2 separate regions of the Homo sapiens genome follow, and region 2 is linked to region 1. Evidence: fine-mapped expression QTL. Tissue or cell type: whole blood. Region 1 holds a variant in brackets; the other region holds the start of a gene. All regions are shown on one strand. Distances are from middle to middle.

Region 1 (3,004 bases):
TGAACTGGGATCCACTGGAGAATTTTGAGCACACGTCAGCTTACATTTTAGCAGGCTAAACCCAGCTGCCATAATGAGAATAAACTCCAGGGAACGAGGGCAGAATGCAGAGGCCAGCCAGAAGTCTATTTCAACAGTCCGGGAGAGATGACAATGGCACAGGTGGGTGCAGCGGAAGTGGGCCACAGTGGTTTTATTCTGGATGTATTTTGAAAGTAGACCCTCTGGATTTGCAAATGGATTGGGTGTACAGTGTAAGAGAAAAAGGATTGAAAAATGCTCCAAGGTTTTGGCCTGAGGATCTGGAAGAATAAAGATGCCATTGGCTGATGGGGAAATGGGGCTGAAGCAGATGGTGGGGAAGACCCGGAGTTCCTGAATCTGAGCATGTTAAGTTTGAGACGCCCGTTGCTCATCTCCTTTTCCTCTCCCTGTCCAAGGGTACTCGGGCTGTGGCACTGAAGTGCCCTGAGGTGACTGTGCCTCTGTCTGCACTGGTAGGGCGCAGCCCCCATGGCCCCTTAGCTGCTCTGCTGCTGTGCCGTGATTGACTGGGCTTGGGCATCTCTGACCAGTTTTGGAATCTCAGGTCCCCAGTGTACCATGAGGCCATTCCCATGGCATCTGCGGAGCCCCCAGACTGATCTCTCCCCCACCAATCCCATTCTGACACGCCACCCCGAAGTGGGTCTTCCGACCACTCTCCCTGCTGTATTTGAATTTTAAATCTTTTGAATACAGATACCAGGAGGCCCTTCACAAACCTTCCTGGATGCACAGAGCCTTCTCCCTGCTTGAATGGAGACAAAGAGAAAACACATCAAACGATCTGGCCACATTAAAAGGGGAATGGCAGGCTGTATGACAGGAAGATAAACCCTGTACTGAAATTTCCAAAGCCTGTAAACAGCTGAGCATAATCATGTTTCAACTTGGTGGTATATTACTTTGGACAGAGTGGTTATGCCATAAAAAGCTCAAAGCGTGAAGATGGGGTTCTATTTTTTCCATTAATTGCTGCAGCGTTTCAGATTAATTCCAGTGACGTGACAGCCCAAAAAAGCAATGGTTTAAACACCAATAAATTTTATTTTTCTCTTAAGAGAGACAGTCCTGCTTGGCACAGCAGCTCCCCTGTCCTTCTCGCCACTCTCAGTGCTCTGGCTGTGTCATCCTTAGACAATCGTCCTTGTCTTTATGGTCCAAAATGGTGTCTGTACATCCAGACCACACATCCATATTCCATGCTGCAGAATGGAAGAGAGGCAGTGAAGGGCGGGGGCGGCTCCTGCCTTCTCAGAGTTCCCAGAAGAA[C/A]CCTCACAACACATGGGCTCTCATCTCCTTGTCCGAGCTAAGCCACTGACCACAGCTGCTATGGAGTAAGGAAATGTGTCCTTGGTCCAAACACAGAAGATCTTGCTTCTCTCCCATCTTCACCTTCTCCCGAGCACGTCCTTCCTCCATCCGCAGCCTGGGCACTCCTTCAGCTCCAACCTGTGCTAAATGAATTACAAGTTAGAAGGGCTGTTGGTTGGCAGCAGGCATCTAGCAGCCTTGGTGACATTTGTCTAAGTCCTGGTTGTCAGGGGTGATGTGGGCAGCTTGTTCCTTATACATACCTGTATGGAAGGCCTGCAGGGTGTCTGGGGCTTAGAGATGGTAATGAAATCAAATCCATCCTCTGAAGGAGTTCACCCAGAGCAACTACCATTTCTTTCTTTTTTTTTTTTTTTTTTTTTTTTGAGACAGTGTCTCACCCTGTTGCTCACGCTGGAGTGTAATGGCACGATCATAGCTCACTGCAGCTTTGAACTCCTTAGCTCAAGGGAGCCTCCTGCCTCAGCCTCCTGAGTAGCTGGGACTACAGGTGTGCACTACCTGCCAGGCTCACAGCTACCCATTCTTGAGCACTCTCCCAGGCGCTAGGCTATGAACATACTATACTATCACAAGACTCTCACAGTGAGTTTTGTGGTGGGTGGTTGCGTCCTTCCCATGAGAAGGTTGAGGCTGGAAGGAATGATTGAATGAAGATAGTGCAGGCAGAGTTGGAATAGGAACCCGGGGCCACTGGAATGTTTCTGGCACATCAGTCTTCCTTGTGTGTCCCCAGAAGTGGCCCCCAAGAGAATGTGACCTGGGCCATGGGATCTGCAGCTGCTTCTGGTGGGCAGGGCTCAGAGAGACCCACAGGGCAAAAATGACTGCCAGGGTTCCAGTCTGAGGCCTACGTCCTGCCATGTGGAAGAAAGCTGGACAGGGAGCTTCGTGTGCCATTGACTCAGGGGTCCATTCTTTTAGGACCTCTGAAAAGTCTCAACATTCCCAGCCCTCAGTTCCCTCAACTGTGAATGCAAATCATAACAGTCCCCATAGGAAAAAGAACTCAATAGACATTTCTGAAAAAAAAAAAAAAAAAATAGCAAACAGGCATATGAAAAGGGGCTCAACATCAGTGATCATCAGAGAAATGCAAATTAAAACCACAATGAGATATCATCTCACTCCAGTTAAAATGGCTTCTATCCAAAAGACAGGCAATAAGGAATGGGGGCGAGGATGTGGAGAAAAGGGAACCCTTGTATGCTGTTGTTGGGAATGTAAATTAGTACAACCACTATGGAGAATGGTTTGGAGGTTCCTCAAAAAACTAACAATAGGACCGGGCATGGTGGCTCACGCCTGTAATCCCAGCACTTTGGGAAGCTGAGGCGGGTGGATCACTTGAGATCAGGAGTTTGAGACCAGCCTGGCCAACATGGTGAAACCCTGTACTAAAAATACGAAAGTTAGCCAAGTGTGGTGGCACACACCTGTAATCCCAGGCACTCAGGAGGCTGAGGTAGGAGAATCACTTGAACCTGGGAGGCAGAGGTTACAGTGAGCCAAGATTGCGCCATTGCACTCCAGCCTAGGCAACAGAGTGAGACTGTCTCAAAAAAATGTTTTTTTAAATAAAAAATAAACCTAACAATAGAGCTACCATATGATCCAGCAATCCTAC
Region 2 (2,500 bases), 22 kb after region 1:
CAAGCCCTAGATCAGCCTGCCCAATGGCAATATAATGCAGGCCACAGGTGACATTTAAAATTCTGTAGAACCCACACTAAAAAATAAACAAATAAAACTTTTATCCCAATATATGGAAAAAGTTTATCACTTCAACATGTAACAATTTTTTGAACATTATTTGGTAAAGAATGCATATATCTCGATTCCGACTAGCCATACTTTAAGTGCTCAGGAGCCATGTGGGGCTGGTGGCCCCAAACTGAACAGCACAGCCCAGGCAGCAGGGGCGCATAGTAGGTTCTGCTCACGCCCATGGTCTGAAAGAAACACGGTTGCAGTTGCTGTGAGCACACCTCACCTGGAGCAAACCGGCCTATCAGGGGGTCCACTGAAGAGATGTCTACATTTGGGGATAAATTAAGAAGATGTTCTTTAAGCCAGCCACTTATTTAATTCCCACCGATATTTTAATTCCTAGCTTCAAGCTGTGGTGCGCGGTTCCGACCTATGCAAATGAACAGCTTACAAACAGAGGGCCACCATCTATTTCTCATTATCTGGGGATCCCGGTTGGGGTGGGGGGCGGAAGTGGGTGTTTGTTATTTCCCCAAATGCGGAGGCCCCTGCACCACTAACGCGAGGAAACGCAGGCGAGTGGGAAGGTACTTTAAAAAGGGGAGGGAGGTGCTCAGAGGGAAGCTAAGCTCTCCGGGAAACAATTACGGCCACGTTACGGTCTGTGGGTGCCAGAAGGAGCAACAATGGAGGCAGTCGAATTCCGAGAGCTCAGAGAGTCTGCCAAACTTAGCCGGCCTCGGCGCGCGGGTTCCCGGGGGCCCCAAAAACTCCGGGCAACTGCGGCCCAACGCCAAGGTCCAGTCCAGGCGCTGGGCCGCAAACGCCTCTCCGGCCTCCGCGCGCGCGCCCGCTGTCTCCCTGCTCCTGAGTGGCTGGGGGGCCGGGATTAACCTTTCACCGCCAGGCCCTGTCCAATCACAGGCTCGCTCTCATGCCGCCACGGGGCGAGCGGAGCGTGGGGGCGCGGAGGGGCGGTGCGGGAGCCAGTGGGATTCTCCAAGCGGCTGTGCGCCGTTGCCGCGGGCCGTGCGCTGGCTGCCGGCCAGCCGGGCGCTGCGCAGTCTCCGCAGGCGCCGGCGGGAGGGGTCGAGGCGGAGGCGCGGCGCAGGCTGCTGCAGGCCCAGGTGAATGGAGTAACCTGACAGCGGGGACGAGGCGACGGCGAGCGCGAGGAAATGGCGGCGGGGGCGGCGGCGCCGGGCGGCTCCGGGAGGCCTGGGCTGTGACGCGCGCGCCGGAGCGGGGTCCGATGGTTCTCGAAGGCCCGCGGCGCCCCGTGCTGCAGGTGAGGCGGGCTCCCGCGGAGCAGCTTTGTGTCCGGGGCGGGGAGCGGGTCGCCTGGCCGCGCTCCCGCCTCCGCGCGGAGGCCCGCGTGCCGGCCATGGCCCCGAGCCGCGCGTCCGGGCCTGGCGGGCGCTGACGAAGGGCGCGGCCTCGCCTGCCTCGTCGTCCCGCACAGCGCGGCCTGTGGACCCGGCGTCTGCCCGCCTCGGCTCTGCTCCTGGGCCCGGACCCCGGCGCCTCCCCGCGAGGCAGCCCTGGGAGACTTTCCGGGCCGCCGTGGCGTGGTGGGGGATGCCGGCGCCTGTCCACTCCCCGGCCTGGCGAGGCCTGGGGCTCTTGACAGGTCCCGTCACGCGCGCTAAGGTGGCGCGGGAGCAGCGGAGGTGGAGACGCGCGCCTGACCTGCCGGAGCACCCTGGGGCCCTCCTCTGATGGGGCCGCTGTGCCGCGCCCGGAGGGGACGAAGCTGGGCTCTCGGTCCCTCCCGGGAGGGTCCTGTGTGATTACTGTCAGGGGACCAGATTGGGGCCCTGGGGGGCGGGCAGGGGCCGAGGCCATTCTTTTGCCTCTCCCCTCAGATGTTTTTGTGCCAAAATGCCTAGACCCTGCGGAGGACCCTTTCTTCAGGGTTTTTGATTTTGGGGAAATCAGTGTATGTTTTAAGTTAGCACATCAGATTTCTGTAGATTGTCCAGAAAAGCTGAGTTGCCCTGATGGCTCTGCCTGGAGGTCAGAGCCAGCAAACCACTGAGTGTGTCCTTAGGAACCTGAAGATCCGCGGAAACGTGGAGATGAGTTGGAGGGTCCTATTTGTGTAGTGTTAACTCCGTGCTTTTGTGGAGAGAGTTGTGGTTAAAGGGACACGTTACTGGTCTACACGATAAGTAAGTGTTCTTAGGACTTTCAGGTTTTAAAAACATTCATCTGATGAAAGAGGATCACTTGGACGCCTATGCTTCTGTCTTCGAATATTCTGAATCTTTACAATCCTGATTGTCAGGTGTCTTCGTGGTGCTTGTTTTCAAACAGTGGAAAAGGACTCAGGTTAGGATTTAAGCAACTCGGAAAATATTGTTAAAAATGTGCTGTTAAAACAGGTTAGCTATATTGAATATGTATTGGTGTAAACGTTAAGTTTTCTAAATAAAAATATACA

Evidence for each region. PIP is the estimated chance that this variant, and not a neighbour inherited with it, causes the effect.
Region 2: DICER1 starts here. The variant in region 1 is fine-mapped to the expression of DICER1 in whole blood (TOPMed, PIP 0.93).

What each region holds. Positions count from the first base shown.
Region 1 is chr14:95,177,994-95,180,997 of GRCh38, reverse strand. It overlaps DICER1-AS1 (DICER1 antisense RNA 1), which reads right to left. Exons shown (of 4, transcript NR_015415.1): 4 at 1,065-1,494. Among named protein-coding and RNA genes, the nearest start is that of DICER1-AS1, 22 kb to the right of the region's middle. The variant C/A (reference allele first, on the strand shown) is at 1,315.
Region 2 is chr14:95,156,075-95,158,574 of GRCh38, reverse strand. It overlaps DICER1 (dicer 1, ribonuclease III), which reads left to right and starts at 1,046. Exons shown (of 27, transcript NM_177438.3): 1 at 1,046-1,345. It overlaps DICER1-AS1 (DICER1 antisense RNA 1), which reads right to left and starts at 887. Exons shown (of 4, transcript NR_015415.1): 1 at 717-887; 2 at 341-382. RefSeq lists enhancers at 576-645, 686-785 and silencers at 876-1,335, 1,396-1,755.